Linked DNA regions of Homo sapiens. The protein of the gene in region 1 interacts with the protein of each later gene in a biochemical or structural test. Each region holds a gene or a part of one and is shown in the gene's direction. Other genes may lie near its edges. The genes, in order: KCNH1 and MKRN1.

Evidence for each region.
Region 2: the proteins of KCNH1 (region 1) and MKRN1 form a complex in vitro, tested with the Homo sapiens proteins (one study listed by BioGRID).

The regions. Positions count from the first base shown.
Region 1 is NC_000001.11:211,130,383-211,140,153, reverse strand, and holds the start of KCNH1 (voltage-gated delayed rectifier potassium channel KCNH1), read left to right. Parts: upstream 1-6,005; 5' UTR 6,006-6,208; coding exon 6,209-6,287; intron 6,288-6,779; exon of another isoform or gene 6,780-6,966; intron 6,967-7,127; exon of another isoform or gene 7,128-7,875; intron 7,876-9,771. UniProt on the Homo sapiens protein: Pore-forming (alpha) subunit of a voltage-gated delayed rectifier potassium channel that mediates outward-rectifying potassium currents which, on depolarization, reaches a steady-state level and do not inactivate.
Region 2 is NC_000007.14:140,468,697-140,478,361, reverse strand, and holds part of MKRN1 (E3 ubiquitin-protein ligase makorin-1), read left to right. Parts: intron 1-3,872; exon of another isoform or gene 3,873-3,981; intron 3,982-4,534; exon of another isoform or gene 4,535-4,587; intron 4,588-6,350; coding exon 6,351-6,479; intron 6,480-9,665. UniProt on the Homo sapiens protein: E3 ubiquitin ligase catalyzing the covalent attachment of ubiquitin moieties onto substrate proteins. These substrates include FILIP1, p53/TP53, CDKN1A and TERT.

The DNA.
Region 1 (9,771 bases):
GCTAACATCCTGATGAACACAGATGCAAAAATCCTCAATTAAATACTAGCAAACCGAATTCAATAGCATATCAAAGTGTTAATTCACCATGATCAAGTAAGCTTCATTCCTGGGATGCAAGGTTGGTTCAACATACACAAATCAATAAATGTGATTTACCACATAAATTGAATTAAAAACAAAAACCATGTGATCATCTCAATAGACATGGATAAAGTTTTCAATAAAATTTTCAGCCTCCCCAGTAGCCGGTATTACAGGCGTGTGCCACCATGCCAGGCTAATTTTTTTATTTTTAGTAGAGACAGGGTTTCACCATGTTGGCTAGGCTGGTCTCGAACTCCTGACTTCAAGTGATCCACCCGGCTAGGCCTCCCAAAGTGTTGGGATCACAGGCGTGAGCCACCATGCCCAGCCTTACCTGGCATTTCTGTATGCTTAGGAGAGGAAAGTGGTACCCACTGCACCTTAGCCCCATCTGACATCTTAATTGTATGTTTCTTTTTTTTTGGTTTTTGTTTTGTTTTTGTTTTTGTTTTTGAGATGGAGTTTCCCTCTTGTTGCCCAGGCTGGAGTGCAATGGCGTGATCTCCGCTCACTGCAATCTCCGCCTCCTGGGTTCAAGCTATTATCTAGCCTCAGCCTCCCAAGTAGCTGGGATTACAGGTGCCTGCTACCACGCCCAGCTAATATTGTATTTTTAGTAGAGATGGGGTTTCACCATGTTGGACAGGCTGGTCTCAAACTCCTGATCTCAGCTGATCCACCTGCCTCGGCCTCCCAAAATGTTGGGATTATAGGTGTGAACCACTGCCCCCGGCTTAATTGTATGTTTCTATTTAATCTTTAAATCCCTTGCACTTTGGCTCCCTCTCTACTATTCCATTGAAAATGTTTCCACTAAAGTATCAAATGGCCAACTAATCATTAGAGCTAATGGACATTTTCCAGTGTTTATCTCTACAGTGTACAATAAATGATGCTTTTCTTCTTTCTTTTCATTTAAAGACCTTTCCCCTCTGGGCTTCTATAAAACCACTTCTCTCGGTTCCCTCCACTTCTAAACTGCTCCTTCTCAGTCTCCTTTGAAAGCTATAAACTGATGATTTCCAATTTTGAGCACCACCCAGATGTTTCTCTTGGGTTCTAGATGTGAATATCCAACTACCTACTTGATATTTCTCTGAAATGTCCTGCAGGCAACTCAGCCTTTTCATAACTGAATACAATTTTCCCCAAGTTTGTTTTAAGAATTGAAGTATAGTGATATTGACATTGTTCATGAACTTCAAAGTAGGAGAAATTTTACATGAATGGAGAAGAGCAGTGGTTTAAATATGGCAATGAGGAACTAGACAATTTCTCACTTCAACTTCTGGCTTCTAGGTACATGGACTGTGACAGAATAAATATATTCCAAAAAAGTGGGACCGACGGGACTCTGAGACTTTAGGGGAAAGCCAGATCTCAGTTAAGAGGAGGAAAGAAAGTCTTAGCTGGGTGTGGTGGCTCATGCATTTAATCCCAGAATTTAGGGAGGCTGAGGTGGGAGGATTACTTGGGCTCAGGCCCAGGAGTTCGAGACCAGCCTGGGAAACATAGGGAGACCCTGTCTCTACAAGAAAAAAAAAAAATTAGCTAGGTATGGTGGCCTGCCCCTATAGCTACTTAGGAGGCTGAGGTGGGAGGATCACTTGAGATCAGGAAGTTGAGCCTGCAGTGAGCCATGATTTTGCTACTGCAGTCCAGCCTAGGCAACAGATCAAGACCCTGTCTCAAAAAAAAAAAAAAAAAATCTTAAGCGAAGAGGTCAAGTTGAACTATAGATTATTTAAAAAGAAAGGAAGATTTAGAGGGCACATTGGAGACAGGAAAGCAGTTGAAAGAAATGACGAAGAACATACACATTCATTAAATATTTGTTGAATTTCTTGAGGGCAGGTGCCAATCATAACCATCTTTTAATCCTTAGAACCTATCCCTGTCTGCTATATACTAGACACGATGCAAATGTTTGTCATAATAAAATGAGACTGTTGTAAATGACTTTTAATTATTTCCCACTGAGGGAAGGGTGTGATGAAAGATCCTTTTCTCTTTTGTTTAGAGGAAATGAGAAAGAAGAATAGCTTAGGGCACTTGGAAGGATATAATTCAATTCTACAAACATTTCACACTATCTATTGGGTTAACCATGGGTGAGTGTAGACCCACATCAGTGCATTCTTTTCCCCAGTCAATTAGATTCAGGGACTAGTATTTCCTTTGAAGCAGATTCTGTCCATTCTCCCAACACTAGGGAAATACATCTATAGCAGGGAATCTTTTTTTTTTTCAATGGATATAGTCTGCCCAACATTCTTCCTATAAGATTATTCAAATAGAAGTTTTGTTAACAGAAATCACATATAATAAGTCAGTCAGTCATTGGGCTATAGAAGCTGAAATTTCTCATGCTGCAAATTCCTCCACTTTTAGATATTTAGATATTTCACTCCTGGTGGCTGAGTAGTGAAGTCGCCTCTATGTTCAATTTCTCCTCCGCTTAAGTTGCTAATGACGATGCATCCATGGCCTGCCCCTTCCAGCTCGCAGACCTAGGACTCACAGGCAACTTTCCTATGTTAGAGAGGTTCCTGGCTTTCTAAAATCTGTCACCCACACCATGTGGTCTTAATGGAAGGAAAAATGAAGTTCCTGTCTTTATATGATAACATTTGCCCCTTCTGATGTGTGGCATTGTCATCCTCTTCATTTGATAGACTTGTTGTTGTTGTTGGGAGAGATTTTTCTGTCATCTCCTGGACTCTTTTCCCAGCCAATCTGCAGATCACCATCTCCATATTCTCCCTATAGCATTATGCCTTCATCACTATCTATTACTTTTGTGAACTCACTAATTACAGTGTAGCTTAATAGCATTTATAAGAACAAAAATTGTTATAGTGTGTCTTTGTTTCAAGGAGCTCACAATCTACGGTGTGATACAGACATAAACACATCTTATAGCTAAGGGGTAAACAAAATGCTGAGGGATACAGGAGGAAAGAAGCCTAGAAATAGTAGACTCACATTTTAGAATTTATTTCAGACTCTGTATCTGAACTCTGTATCCCTGCAGAAAATGGGCTACATTTTCTGCATGGAAGGATAGAGGCAGTTGAATTGGAACTCTGGTCACAGTTATTTAAAGTTGTCCCTTTAAATGAAGGAGTGGCTTTGTCTGTTATGCAAAAATATAAGCGTTCTCAATTGGTTTGCCATGGTACATTGGTATATTGTGAATCCTTTAGAAATCTGTTACCAAGTTTTGACAAATCTGTAAGATTAAAGTTTACTCTAACTGAGATTCCCATATTACAGAGGTAGATCTCAGACAGAACTTTAAGTTGAGCAGGTGCTGGAACTGAATGTCAAGGAGGGAACAAAAGGTGGCAAGTAAAAGGTAAGAAGCACAGTATCCCGTCAACTAGCACCAAGAAAGAGGGAGTGTTTACTGGAATATTGAGAATGTGGCTGTGGACAGGGCAGAACATGATTTTATTCCTGCAGTCAGATGTGTTGTGAGTGAACCAAGGGAATGGGGGAAAAACTGGATGTACCTCCACAGACACCATGAGACACTCACATTGTGATGAAAGACTGCTGACTTTTTAGCAATTTAATTCTTAAATATTTATTTTATTTAAAAATCCATGAACACCTCCAGCTTTTTTTTTTTTTTTTATGGCAAAACAGTTCATTGTAGCTGTTCACGTAGTAATTATCTTCCTCTTGCATCCCCAGGTAATGACTGTGATCTTGACCTAAAAGCCACCTTAGTTAGTTTGAATAAGGAAGACCTTGAAAGGAAAGGTAACTGACCAGAAACACTCTTAAGAAGCACACAATGAAGAAATGATCATTTCTAAGCAAGTACTTAAAGTGCCATAACACAGTATAACAGTGCTTTTATAAGCATCCAGTCTTATTTAAGCAAAAAGACGTAAAATAATGTGATCGTGTTATGGCACACAATCTGGAGGTTTAAAACTTTAAAAAAAAGAACCACTTTGTAGTAGCACTATTTTGTTTTAGGTCTTTTAATTTCTTCAAGTGTGCCACCAAAAATTGTAGTATTCAAAAAGGTGCCAATACACACACACATACACACACACACAGAGTCCATGTTGAGATCCATTTCAGTAGTACATTTAAAATGGAAGACATCTTATTTCTTTTTCTCATCAGGTTGCCCACCAAGGCTTTAACATCTCTGATCTCAAACTAATATCATCTGTTTCCTTTTTTATCTAAGCCACAGAACATGAGAGCTCATTAAAACCTTAGAAATTTTATTAACTCTCTATGATAGTTTTCCCCTCCACATTATTTTCTTTATCTTCCTTTCACAAGCAGGATTATGAGGTTTCTTGATGGGTTTTTAATATTGTCATGAAAAATCTTCCCTTGGCATGTTTGTGCGATAACACAACTTTAAAAACCTTATTTAAATGAACTTATTCAAATGAAGTGGATAGGCACCAAACTGGCTCAGCTCAGCACCAAATACATTTCAGAATCAAGTTCTCTTCAACCAGTGTTATCTCATTTGTAATAGAACAAAGAACCACTAGACGGAGCTAGGGTTTAAGAAATCACTGTTCTAGACTAGGTAACAGGCGATGGGTAGAAGGCTATCTTAAGGAAAAAGTGTATCATTACTTGCATTTCAAATCCTATGACAGTCTTATCCAACTCTCTGCTAACAGCAATCTGTTTACTTTGTCTCTACACAAGACGAGATAAAGGGTGATATTCGTAATGGCCCAATTTATTTAGTCACTCCAATAATGACGTCTGACCTTGGCACAGCACTTTACAATTTAAGGTGCTGTCCCCATACATAATTCTTGCTTGATCTTCACAGCAACTCTGAGAGATTTCTGGGCAAGAATTAGTTCTTCTGTTTTTGAAATTAATTAACTGAGACAGGATGTCTTTGCAATACATTAGGATATGTCAGGATGGCTAACCCAGACAATTAATTTTCAGGGTTAGTTTTTTTTTCTCTTACATTTTTGTGTTGACTGTTGACTCAGTCTGAAACTAGTAAACTCTCCATTCATTTCTCCTGTGGGACATAGGCTTAGTCTCCCACCGCACCGACTGGGGATACATAGTAAAAAGGCAGGTACAGACTATGTGTGGGTCGAAATCCCCCAAAATAAGTGAACAAACGACCGTTGTCTTAGCCCCTGTCCAGAAACCTTGGGTGTATGTGGTTCTTCCGTATACCAGGGGTCAGCTGTAAAAACTAACTGTATCCTCTGCACTACAGACTACCCTTCAAGCCAAAGCCACGGTTGCTTAATTAATGCTGCCCCTCTCCTGAGCATTCGCCCTTAGAGACAAGTCCACCCCTTTGATGTTTGTCAGGCAGTTTGATACTGATCATACCAAACATCAGGAGCCTGCATTTGTGTCTACGGTAAAAACAACCCAAGACAACTCTTCTGAAGCTGAATCTGCCAGTCACTCTAAATCTGCACTATTGCAATACGACTTCATTAATTACTGCTCAAACACTGGCCTAGAATCAAGGTGGGGCAACTTTCACTAGTCAGGCTAACCTTACAGGAAGGCAAGAAGGTGTTCCCAGAGCCTCACAGGTCCCGGGGGCCCCGGCCTGAAACAGAGCAAAGGAAGAGAGTTACATCAGCACGCTCCCCTAAGACTTGTTGGGGGTGAATCCGCCCTGAAAGCTGCTCACAATGCCCTCCTCTCCACCCAGCCCATGGCACATCCTGAACACATTTCCCGGCTGAACCCAGAGGGTGGCGCTGCCGTCCCAGCCTTGGTCCACGGCCGCCCGCCACTTCCCTGCCTCTGCGGGAGCCCCCCAGCTTGGTCTCCCGCAGGCCGGCGGTGGGGCACGAGCCCGGTAGGGGGCGCCGCCGGCCCAGGCGCCGCTGCTCCCTCCGCCCACCCGGAGGCGGCTGCCGCTAGCCGAGGCCGGCGCGAGTGCACTGCGAGGCGGGCCGCAGGGAGGGAGGCGCGAAGAGGGCGCGAGGGTAGCAGCCAGAGGGAGCCGCCAGCCCTGCCTGCGGATCCCCGCCGGGCGCATGGGGCGCTTCGAGCCGGGACTGCGTGCGGGCCCCGAGGCCAGTTTCCTGCTGTCGTAAGAAGCCGCGCCAGGACGCCCGCCGGACCCCGAGCTGCTGGGAGGATGACCATGGCTGGGGGCAGGAGGGGACTAGTGGCCCCTCAAAACACGTTTCTGGAGAATATTGTTCGGCGGTCCAATGGTAAGAGGTGCATTCGGATTTCGATTACCCGGGCGTTTTATCCGTGCCTTTATTGCAGAACCTCTCGCCGCTCGGAGCCAGCAGATGCAGCAGAACCCGCGAGCTCTGCTAAGGAGCCGCGGCGCGGGCACCCAGGGCAGCCTCCCCGAGGCAGAGAAAGGTGGGCAGGGCGGGGCGGGGTCTGATGGGTCCCCATCCTAACAGGAGAGCTCTTCTGGGGACGCCTTTTGGGCCTTTCTAGCGCCCTCTCGGTCTTATCTCCAAGGATGCGTGACAGCTGCTGAGCAAAGTACTGGGAAAAGTGATGGAAAGCTGGCTGCAGCCGGAGCGGCAGCGCGCGCCCCATCGGCACTGCCCACCCTTCCGCGAAGGCTCTGGGGCTCCCGGGCTGCTCCCAGAGGCGCCGCCTCTCCCCAGGGAGAGCCAGCAGTAGAGACGGGCAACTCCAGGTCCCCGCTGCCTCAGAATGGGAGGATCCGGCTGCCTCCACCTTCCATCCCTGCAACTGAAAAGTCCGAGGTGTCGGGACGTGCTCTCGGCGGCCTGATTCCACCCCTTCACCCACCCACCACTTTCTAGGTGAAGTTAAGGCTCACCTTCGAAGTGAGGGGCAGATGGTTTTCCTGGCGTCAGGTGGGAAGTGGAGGGCACAGGTGCAGAGCGAACTAAATGGTCACAGGTACAAACCTGTTATATTTCCCCTCTTCCAAACCCACAACGGTTTTATGCCACCCTTAAGTGTTGCTCACCTATAAATTCCCAATCTCACCAAACCTATAAATAGATCCATTACCCAATAAACTGACAATCAGCACTCATCTGTTTCCTTGTGGCATTAAGATCGACGGTAGCATGAAGCCTTGAGAGGCGAGAGTCCTAGGAGCGGGGATGGAAAGGAAGAATTCCAAACGCCTTTCGGACTTAACAGAGGAGAGACCCCAACTAAGCACTTGCAGAGCGACTAGGAGTCCTGGCAGTTGGAAGGCGCAGCGCACGAGTTCATCAAATGGCTATATTGAAAGATAGCCAAGCATAAGATGCTCTTTGCAGACTCCTAGAGCCCCCACCCCACCCCTTCCAGAAACAGATGACATTCTTCTACCAGGGAGACATGAGGAGCTAACTTAGGAAATGGGTTTTAATAATGTGTAAATATCACGATTTCAGAGTCTAAGGAGCTTCTGTGTAAAATGATGAGCTTCTGTTTGGATTTAGTTAGGGATTCAGGGGAAGGGCATGAAAAGTGACTTATGCTACTAATAAACACTCTTTAATTAAACAGTGATTTAAGTTTATCTTATAATGAAACACATCAACTAGCATAGCAAATAATCACGTATTATTTAAGTACTTTCTTAGAAATGATCATTTCTTTATTGTGTGCCTCTTAAGAGTGTTTCTGGTCAGTCACCTTTCCTTTCAAGGTCTTCCTTATTCAAACTAAGGTGGCTTTTAGGTCAAGGTCACAGTCATTACCTGGGGATGCAAGGGGATGATAATTGCTATGTGAACAGCCACAATGAACTGTTTTGCCATAAAAAAGCTGGAGTTGTTCATTTATTTTTAAATAAAATAAGAGTTACTGTGCTATTATTGCTATTTTTATTGGACTATTAAGGGGTATGGAGACAATCTTGCAAATTTGGTTATCCCATTGTCAGTGACACCAACTTTCTCATAAATATCAATGACAATTCTATTTTTCAGTAAAGAGGCAGTGCCCTGTAAGTTAGAGGGGAAACCCAGTACCTAATGTATACTGTGTATGTTTTTGAGTGGAGGGAGCAGGAAGAGAAACTTACATGTAAAAGTCACAAGATGCCTTGGGTTTTAAGGGAACCTTAAGAATCTTGGAGCTGTGAAGGCAGAATACTGTCTATTTTAGTTGATCTTATTAGAGCCACTTTCCCTCTGTAATCATAGAATGTGAATAGAATAAGTCACTGGGAATATTTTTAGGATGGGCATTGTCATTTCAACACCAGTTTCAGCAGGTTGATTTCAATTAACCAATCAAATGAATAGCATCAAAAAAAATGAAGCATCTTGGGAGAGTTGGATGAATTTTTAAAATTATTATTTCAGAATAAATGGTTCTCATCTTGAAATATGGGACTCAATGTTTAAAAGGTGATCCCTTTTATAATATTTCCTGAACACAAATGGAAGAAAAAATGTGAACTCCTAGAAATATCACAATATCTGCATGCATTATATTATTTTACTGTGGTGGAAAAAGTCTATTTAAAGATATTGATTGTCTCATTCTAAAATCCATGAGCCCTTTTTTGGACATTACGGTATTAAAATAGCATTTTACCTTTGAATAGCAATATTTTATGATCATTTTATTAGATATTTTCTCCCAGTGGTCCTGTGCAGTATTAATGTTCCTCTTTTACAGATCAGAAAACTGAGTCCTAGGAATATTAAGTGGCTTATTCAAAGTGGCAGAGCAAACAATGCCTGAGGCTGGTATTCCTTAGAGGACATCTATCATATATCCTTCTCTCAGCATTATAATTTCTCCAGCTTTTATGACTTAGTCTGTGGAACTATTTTTATCATCCTTTAAAAACTTCTCATATGATAATGAATAATAGTACTGACTTCATTTTGGGTTATTTGAATATCTGATGCCCGGAATATCATAGAGCTGTGGGAAGAGACAGACCTTAAATATTATCTAGTCTGCCTCTCCTTCCCCATCATTGTATAAATAAGGAAATTGATGCAAGAGGCTTTCCTCAAATATTTAAGGGCAGAACTAATGAGGCCCCAAACCATTTGAGTCCAATGTCAGATTCTTTATGGTACACCATGCAAAAACCCTTTCCTCATGTTACCATTATATTCTCTCAAGAAGCATAATTTCCCAGTGGAGATTAAATAAAATGTTATAACAACAAGAACAACATCCATCTTGGCTAACAGCCACACTACCACATCTCAACAGAATAATAGGGCAAAGGAAAGGCTAATTATATTTCAAGGAAATGCAGTCTGTTCACCTTTGTCAGTGGTTTAGCTGAAGGCAAAGGCGGGGATAATGGGCACTTAACATCTGTGTGCCCCATTATAAAGTACCAAGTCACTTTTCACAGAGTATCACCTTTGATCCTCATAAGCTAGTAGAGGAGGTGCAGTCTCTCCATTTTAGAGTTTAAGGAACTAAAATCCTTAAACTAAAACTCACCTAAGAATCCTCAGGTTAAGTGATTTACCTACAATTCGTAAGAGGCAGAATTAGGAAAAGGCAATTAGAGACAGATCAGGGACTAGCCAGCAGTTGTTTTTGGTTTATTCATTCAACAAAGATTTATTGAATGTATTTATGGAACACTGAGGATACAGTGGTAAACAAGAAACCCTCCTTGTGATTAGTAAATTACATTCTAGTGAATCTTGGTCCAAGGTTCTTGCCCCTATTTTACAGTGTTGACCGGCTGCGACTGTTTAGGCCTGTCACTGTATTTAAAAAACA
Region 2 (9,665 bases), on another chromosome or scaffold:
TATGCGAGACGAAAATATTAGAAAAATTAAGGGATGGCGGTTGTATGGATGTGTATGGTTGTAAAAAACTACCTAGCTCTACGCAGAAGAGGGCATTTAATTGTACGTTTTTTATTTTCCGGTTTTTAAATAGTGATCAGTAGCGACTGTAAGCTTTTCTTTTTCTATCAGTTGAATAAATCAACTGAAATGCCGGTTTTCACCTGGGTGGTATAATTTATATGCAAGTATGTAAAAATGATTCCTAATTAGAACTTGTAGTATTAAGGGTGAAATTTGAAACCTTCCCAGTCTTTGATGTGATACATTTATCCTGGCGACCTTCGAAGGTCTCTCAGCCTTTGATATGATACATTTAAGGTGTGAAGGATAAGCTTAATTATTTTACATAATGGGATGTAGAAAGCATAAACGCAATTTCAGGTCACTTGTCTTATTCATCGGTGGATTGTAAAAGTGGAATATTGCCAGGAATGATGATTTTAAAGTTTCTACTCATGGAGCAAATTATTTGAATATCTGTTTCCCTTTTACAATGCTACAGTTGATCTATATGTGCTAGTTACATCTTTTAAAAGATTGAAACCGGCCTGTCGGGGTGGCTAGGTCGGCGTGGTGGCTCACGCCTGTAATCCCAGCATTTTGGGAGGCTGAGGCGGGCGGATCGCCTGAGGTAAGGAGTTCGAGACCAGCCTGGCCAACATGGTGAAACCCTGTCTCTACTAAGAATACAAAAATTAGGCCGGGCACAGTGGCTCACACCTGTAATCCCAGCACTTTGGGAGGCCAAGGCAGGTGGATCACGAGGTCAGGAGCTCAAGACCAGCCTGGCCAAGATGGTGAAACCCCGTCTCTACTGAAAATACAAAAAACATTAGCCGGGCGTGGTGACAGGCGCTTGTAATCTCAGCTACTCCGGAGGCTGAGGCAGGGAGTTGCTTGAACCCAGGAGGCAGAGGTTGCGGTGAGCCAATATCACACCACTTCACTCCAGCCTGGGCGAAAGTGAAACTCTGTCAGAAGAAAAACAAAAAAGAAAAAGAAAGAAAAGAAAGAGCTTAGATTTACTAGTTTTTGGGGGTTTTTTGTATAGCTTTTGCTTGAGACAGTTTTTTATTGTTGTGCAGATTCCTTGATAGGTCTGGGGTTTTAGTGTTTGACATTGTTTTCGGTTGTTCTAGGTACCAACATGATCTCTTACTTAAAACTATTTTCTCCTTTAGATAGAGGAATGTCAACTATCATTTTTTTTTTTTTTTTTTTGAGACAGAGTTTCCCTCTTGTTTCCCAGGTTGGAGTGCAATGGTGTGATCTCTACTTACCACAACCCCCGCCTCCCAGGTTTAATTGATTCTCCTGCCTCAGTCTCTGGCATTACAGATGCCTTAGTAGCTGGGATTACAGGCGTGCACCACCATGCCCACCTGACTAATTTTGTATTTTTAGTAGAGACGGGCTTTCTCCGTGTTGGTCAGGCTGGTCTTGAACTCCCGACCTCAGGTGATCTGCCGGCCTCAGCCTCCCAAAGTGCTGGGATTAGAGGCGTGAGCCACCGCACCCGGTCTATGATCCTTATCGTTCACTTTGAGCTCTCTGAGAAGAGTAGGGCCCTATTTTATCTGCAGGGCTTTCTTTCCTCAGTTCCTCAGTTTCTTTCCTCAGTTCCAGTATCATGAACAGGATACTCAGTTACTGAGTATCCTGAGCAGATACTGAGTAAATGCTTGAGTGATGTTGATAAAGTCATATACCTAGAATTACCCACTTTAACAGGAACTTTGTAAGATTCCTCTGCTTTCATTAAAAAAAAAAAAAACAAAACTTGTAAATTACCAAAGACAAAGTACTTAACAGAACACATGTGTATCTTCCTTTTTTTTTTTTTTTTTTGAGATGGAGTGTCGCTCTGTCGCCCAGGCTGGAGTGCAGTGGCGAGATCTCAGCTCACTGCAACCTCTGCCTCCTGGGTTCAAGCGATTCTCCTGCCTCAGCCTCCTGAGTAGGTGGGATTACGCCCGGCCACATGTATATTTTTTCTGGAACTACCTTATTCAATCATTCAGTAAGTAAACATTGCACGCCAGCAATGGGAGACACAATATTAGGTGTTCAAGAGAGTGCAGATGTATGTACTGTATTATAAATAAACATTTTCAATATGTTTGCTAGGTAAACATCACCTAAAGAATCAGGTAGAGGTGTGTTTTAGTGTTTGTGCTCATTTCTCCCTATAGCACATCACTCCTGTATCTAGGAATTTGACTAAAGCTATTTTCTTCACTTAGAAGTTTTGATTAGAATGTTTTTAATTGCTCGGAATCACCTGTATTTTCCTACTGGTTACATTTTTTCTAATGTTTCTCCTGGGGTTTTCATTGTGTTTTATACCTTTCCTCAGAAACTGTGTTATGCTGCCACCACCAGGCTGTTTTTCATATCTTTTATTAGAGCAATACTAAGAAACAGAAATGCTCATTGCATCTGCTACCTTGAGTTACCTTGAGTGTGTGAGGTTAGAACAGTTAATACTTAAAGAGAAGTTGTAATTTGAATTTAGACCCCTCTTTATTAGAGTGCTTCTATAATGGCAGATAAGTGTTCTGGTAGTTGAAATAATACACAAAAAAACAAGTGTTTAATTTTTAATTTTTCAAAAAACTCTTTTCTTGATTTTTATTTGTATTTATTTGTATTTTTTGAGATAGGGTCTCGCTCTGTCCCCTAGGCTGGAATGCAGTGGCAGTGTCTTGGCTCATTGCAGCCTCCACCTCCCAGGCTCAAGCAATCCTCCTGCTTGAACCTCCCCAGTAGCTGGAATTACAGGCACGTGCCACCACCCCAGGCTAATTTTTTTTTGCATTTTTGATAGAGACAGGGTTTCACCCTGTTGCCTAGGCTGGTCTTGAACTCCTAAGCTCAAGTGTTTCACCCGCCTCGGCCTCCTAAAGTGCTGGGATTACAGGTGTGAGCCACCATGCTTGGCCTTGAAAGTTGTGTTTTGTTTGTTTGTTTGTTTGTTTTCTGAGATGGAGTCTGTGTCGCCCAAGCTGGAGTGCAGTGGCACGATCTCGGCTCACTACAACCTCTGCCTCCTGGGTTCAAGGAATTCTGGTGCCTCAGCCTTCCGAGAAGCTGGGATTACAGGCACGTGCCATCACACTCGGCTAATTATTTGTACGTTTAGTAGAGATGGGGTTTCACCATGTTGCCCAGGCTGGTCTTGAACTCCTGACCTCAGGTGATCCACCCACCTTGGCCTCCCGAAGTCCTGGGATTACAGGCATGAGCCCCCGTACCTGGCCTCAAAAGTTTTTAAAAATGTGGTTAACGTAACTTAAAGATCAGCTGGGCGTGGTGTCTCACCCCTGTAATTCTAGTACTTTGGGAGGCCAAGGCAGGTGGATCACTTGAGGTCAGGAGTTCGAGACCAGCCTGGCCAACATGACGAAACCCGTTCTCTACTAAAAATACAAAAATTAGCTGGGCGTGGTGGCGGGCACCTGTAATCCCAGCCACTCTGGAGGCTGAGGTGGGAGAATCACTTGATCCCAAGAGGCAGAGGCTGCAGTGAGCCAAGATTGCACCACTGCACTCCAGCCTGGGTGACAGAGTGAGATTTCGTCTCAAAAAAAAAAAAAAAGAAAGAAGGAAATCCTTCAGAAATTCTTTATCTGAGTGCTGTGACGTCCATAGTGAAATTTATTACTTGGAAACTACATAGTGGTTGTGAGAGGAAATAAGTAATAAATATTAAATGGTATTAAAAAGATTATGCAACTGGGAAAGAAAAATTAATTTGCTATCGCTACCATGATTCACCATCACATCTAGCTGTCTTCTACAGCCTTTTATTTATTTATTTTTTTTTTGAGACGGAGTCTCAGTGGCGTGATCCTGGTTCACTGCAACCTCTGGGCCCCCCCCAACCCACTGCGAGTTCAAGCAATTCTGCCTCAGCCTCCCAAGTAGCTGGGACTACAGGTGTGTGCCACCATGCCTGGCTAATTGTTTGTTTTTTTTGTATTTTTAGTAGAAACAGGGTTTCACTGTGTTAGCCAGGATGGTCTTGAGCTCCTGACCTCATGATCCACCTGCCTCAGCCTCCCAAAGTGCTGGGATTACAGGTGTGAGCCACCGCACCTGGCCTAATTTTTGTATTTTTGGTAGATAGTGGGTTTCACCATGTTGGCCATGCTGGTTTTGAACACCTGACCTCAGGTGATCCACCTGCCTCTGCCTCCCAAAGTGCTGGGATTGTAGGTGTGAGCCACCGGGCCCACCCTACAGTCTTTTATTCTTTCTTTCTTTCTTTCTTTCTTTCTTTCTTTCTTTCTTTCTTTCTTTCTTTCTTTCTTTTTTTTTTTTTTTTGAGACGGAGTTTCGCTGTTGTTGCCCAGGCTAGAGTGCAGTGATACAATCTTGGCTCGGTGCAATCGCCATCTCCTGGGTTCCAGCGATTTTCCTCTCTCAGCCTCCAGAGTAGCTGGGATTACAGGCTTGTACCATCACACTCGGCTAATTTTTGTATTTTTAGTAGGTACCGCTTTCACCATGTTGGTCAGGCTGGTCTCAAACTCCCAACCTCAGGTAATCCACCCGCCTTGGCCTCCCAAAGTGCTGGGATTACAGGCATGAGCCACCGAACCCGGCTTTCTACCTTTTTCTAACAAGTATATATTATGTGCACAGATAGTTGGAGATAAAAAGGGGAATAAACCAGTCTTTACCCATCAGGAATTTATAATCTAGTTTGATAAATGGTATACTCACTCATTAAAAGTTAAATATCAAAGTAAGAAGTGTCACTGCAGATGAATTGATTAAATGCCTTATCTATTCTATAATTTGTAGAAATTCCTAAAGAGGTTGTTAAGATGCCTAGAGATACTCTGAGGGTGCTGTTTGGTTCTCTTGTACCCTTACAGGGTAACTTGGCAGTTTCTTGTTCTCTATGTTGGGGGCCACTATTAGGTTTCTAAGAGGCACAGCAGTAGGGGGATTCTAGTAAATTTTGTCTTTTACTGCACAGTGTCTCATGGAGACAGAGTCTGCACAGTGGAAGGAACTTCAGAAATAATATATGGCCCAGGTTTTCACCGAAGGCAAACTCAACTTGGGGTGAATCTGGATGATGTTTTTTTTTTTTTTTTTGGTGGTATCATTTAAAAACAAGACATATACTTATATTCATTGGTTTTTGTTTGGAGGAGAAATTCTTTGACGTAGACTATATCTTTTTTTCTTTTTCTTTTTCTTTTTCTTTTTGAGATGGAGTCTCTCTGTTGTCCAGGCTGGAGCGCAGTGGCTCAATGGCACGATCTCGGCTCACTGCAATCCCTGCCTCAGCCTCCCGAGTAGTTGGGATTACAGGTGCCTGCCACCATGCCCGGCTAATTTTTTGTACTTTTAGTAGAGATGGGGTTTCACCATATTAGCCAGGATGGTCTTGATCTCCTGACCTCGTGATCCATCCGCCTTGGCCTCCCAAAGTGCTGGGATTACAGGTGTGGGCCACCACGCCTGGCCCTTTTTTTTTCTTTTTGTTATGTAAGTTAAACAGTTTTCATAATCTAAGGCGTATTATTATTACATTTTTTTGAGACAGAGTCATAGTCGTGCTCCATCACCCAGGCTGGAATGTCAAAATAGTTCGTTGTAACAATGCAAAAACAAGGGCCAGGCGCAGTGGCTCACGCTTGTAATCTCAGCACTTTGGGAGGCCGAGGTGGGCAGATCACAAGGTCAGGAGATCGAGACCATCCTGGCTAACATGGTGAAACCCTGTCTCTACTAAAAATACAAGAAATTAGCCGGGCGTGGTGGCGGCGCCTGTAGTCCCAGCTACAAAGCAAAAACACAATGCAAAAACGGACTAATACACTTGCTTTACTCCTGTTTTCTTATCACCTTCTTTTTATTTTTTTTTTTTGAAATGGAGTCTTGCTCTGTCTCCCAGGCTGGAGTGCAATGGCGCGATCTCGGCTCATTGAAACCTCAGCCTCCCACGTGTAAGCAGTTCTCCTGCCTCAGCCTCCTGAGTAGCTGGGATTAACATGTGTGCCACCACACCAGCCAATTTTTGTATTTTTAGTAGAGACGGGGTTTCACCATGTTGCCCAGGCTGGTCTCGAACCGCTGGTCTTAGACCCCTGACCTCAGGTGAGCCACTCACCTCAGCCTCCCAAAGGTACTGGGATTACAGGCATGAGCCACCATGCCTGGCCCTTTCTTTGTGTTTATTTCGTATGTTTGTGTATTTACTGGTTGAATATATTAGTCATGAATACTAATTAGTTTTAATATTTTCAAGGATTGGTTTTAATCCAGTTTTGTGGTCTTTCGTCTCACAGGTATTTTATGCATGGGGTTTGTAAGGAAGGAGACAACTGTCGCTACTCGCATGACCTCTCTGACAGTCCGTATAGTGTAGTGTGCAAGTATTTTCAGCGAGGGTACTGTATTTATGGAGACCGCTGCAGGTAAGAATTTGTTTATAAATTTGTTCAGGGGTGGGTTGGAGGAAAAAGGTAAAAGACATACTTCTGATAGCTTTATATGTCACTGATTAAAAATAATGCTTTGAAAATGACTCTTGGCTGGGCAGTGGCTCATGCCTATAATCCCAGCACTTTGGGATGCTTAGGTAGGAGGATTGCTTGATCTTGGAAGTTTGAGACCAGCCTGGGTAACCTAGTGAGACCTCATGTCTACAAAATATAGAAAAATTAGCTGGGCATGGTGGTGTGCGTCTGTAATCCCAGCTACTTCGGAGGCTGAAGCAGGAGAATTGCATGAACCCGGGAGGTGGATGTTGCACTGAGCCAAGAGCCCGCCACTGCGCTCCAGCCTGGGCAACAGAGCGAGACTCCACCTTAAAAAAAAATTGGGTAGGGCTTTTCTATCCTCCTAGTTCAGAAATGACTAGGTGTATTATCTGTGGATGTTAAACAAGTAACCCTCAAATTTATTTTTTATTTATTTTTTTGAGACAGGGTCTTACTGTGTTGCCCAGGCTGGAGTGCAGTGGTGTGGTCACTTCTCACTGCAGCCTCAACTTACCAGGCTGAAATGATCCTCTCACCTCAGCCTCCCAAGTAGCTGGGACCACAGGGATGCACCACCTCATTTATTTAGTTTTTTGTAGAGATGGGGGTCTTAATATGTTGCGTAGGCTGGTCTCAGATTCCTGGGCTCAAGCAATCTTCCTGCCTTGGCCTCCGAAAAGTGTTGGGATTACAAGCATGAGCCCCAGAAACTGGCCCATCCCCAAATTTAGTAGGTTAAAACAGTGAACATTTATTATCTCAGTTTCTGGGGTTCCGGATTCTGTGAGTGCCTTAGCTGGATGGTTCTATCTCAGAGACACTTATGAGATGGCAGTCAAAATTTTAGCAAGTCATCTGAAGACTTGATGGGGACTCCAGGATATTTTTTGTGTGTGTGAGACCGAGTCTTGTCCCTCTGTTGCCCAGGCTGGAGTGCAGTGGCAAGATCTCGGCTCACTGCAACCTCTGCCTCCCAGATTCAAGCAATTCTCCTGCCTCAGTTTCCCAAGTAGATGGGATTACATCTGCGTGCCACTATGCCCGGCTAATTTTTTATATTTTTGGCAGAGACAGGGTTTCATCATGTTGGCCAGGCTAGTCTCGAACTCCTGACCTCAAGTGATCTGCCCACCTCGGCCTCCCAGAGTGCTGGGATTACAGGTGTGAGACACAGTGCCCAGCCAGCATTGTTTTTTGTTTGTTTGTTTGGGTTTTTTTGTTTGTTTTGTTTAGGATGGAGTCTTGCTCTTGTCGCCCAGGCTGGAGTGCAGTGGCGCAATTTCGGCTCACTGCAACCTCCGCCTCCTGGGTTCAAGCGATTCTCCTGCCTCATCTTCCGGAGTAGCTGGGATTACAGGCGCCCGCCACCACACCTAGCTAATTTTTGTATTTTTAGTAGAGACGGAGTTTCACCATGTTGGCCAGGCTGGTCTCGAACTCCTGACCTCAGGTGATCCACGCGGTTCGGCTTCCCAAAGTGCTGAGATTACAGCCGTGAGCCATGGTGCCTAGCCCAGTATTGTTTTTAAGAGGTCTTACTCTCATGACTGTTGGCAGGAGACTTTGGTTTCTCACCACTTGGCCTTTTTTTTTTTTCAAGACGGAGTTTTGCTGGTCACCCAGGCTGGAGTGCAATGGCATGATCTCAGCTCACTGCAACCTCTGCCTCCCGCGTTCGAGAGATTCTCCTGCCTTGGCCTCCAGAGTAGCTAGGATTACAAGCATGCACCACCACACCTGGCTAATTTTTTTTTTTTTTTTTTTTTTTTTGAGACAGAGCCTAGCTCTGTCGCCAGGCTGGAGTTCAGTGGCACAGCCTCAGCTCACTGCAACCTCCACCTCCCAGGTTCAAGTGATTCTCCTGCCTCAGCCTCCCGAGTAGCTGGGATTACAGGCATGCACCGCCACACTCAGCTAATTTTTGTATTTTTAGTAGAGATGGGGTTTCACCTTGTTGAAAGGATGGTCTTGATCTCCTGACCAGCCCACACCAGCCTCCCAAAGTGCTGGGATTGTAGGCATGAGCCACCGCGCCCGGCCCACACCCCACTAACTTTTGTATTTTTAGTAGAGACGGGGTTTCACTATGTTGGCCAGGCTGGTCTCAAATTCCTGAGCTCAGGCAGTCCACCTGCCTTTGCCTCCCAAAGCGCTGGGATTACAGGCGTGAGCCACCCCGCCTGGCCCACATGGGCCTTTTCATAGGGATACTTTAGTATCCTTGCAGCTTGGCAGCTAGCTTTCCCCAGAGCAAACAATTTAACAGAGGAGGCAAGGAAAAGCCACAATGCCTTTTATGACCTAGTGTCAGAAGTCATATACTGTTATTTCCACTGATTCTGGACTAAGTTACTAAGTCCAGCCCACATGTAAAGGGAGAGGATTGGGCTCTACCTTTTGAAGGAAGGCATATCAAAGAGTTTTGTATGTACTTTAAACCACTACCCTCGGTAAGACTTTTGACAGTGTCATAGTAAATTTTTTTTTTTTTTTGAGATGGAGTCTCGCTGTCACCCAGGCTGGAGTGCGGTGGTGGGATCTCAGCTCACTGCAAGCTCCGCCTCCCGGGTTCACGCCATTCTCCTGCCTCAGCCTCCTGAGTAGCTGGGACTACAGGCGCCCGCCACCACGCCTGGCTAATTTTTTGTATTTTTAGTATAGACGGGGTTTCACTGTGTTAGCCAGGGTGGTCTTGATCTCCTGACCTCGTGATCCGCCAGCCTCAGCCTCCCAAAGTGCTGAGATTACAGGCGTGAGCCACTGTGCCATAGTCATAGTCAATTTTAATGTCATTATCAGAAAATGTAGTGTGAGCCACTGGGTTCAAATAGAGTTCAGAACCTGACATTATTGATGGTGTGGGATATTAATGTTAAGTCATCCCACATCTGTTTATTAAGAGTCCAGTAAGGATGAGGGGAAAGAGAAGATCTTTTTCAAATGACTGTGTAGAAGTTCAGAAGTTGATCTCATAGAAACTTTGTTTAGTTGCTACTCATTTTGCCCTTTGCTAATTTGTCATTGCATTATTGCTGAAAAAGGGGGAAAATGACACAATGACATTATTCTCAAACTCTCCACCAGGCATGTCTTTTTTTTTTTTTTTTTTTTTTTTGTGAG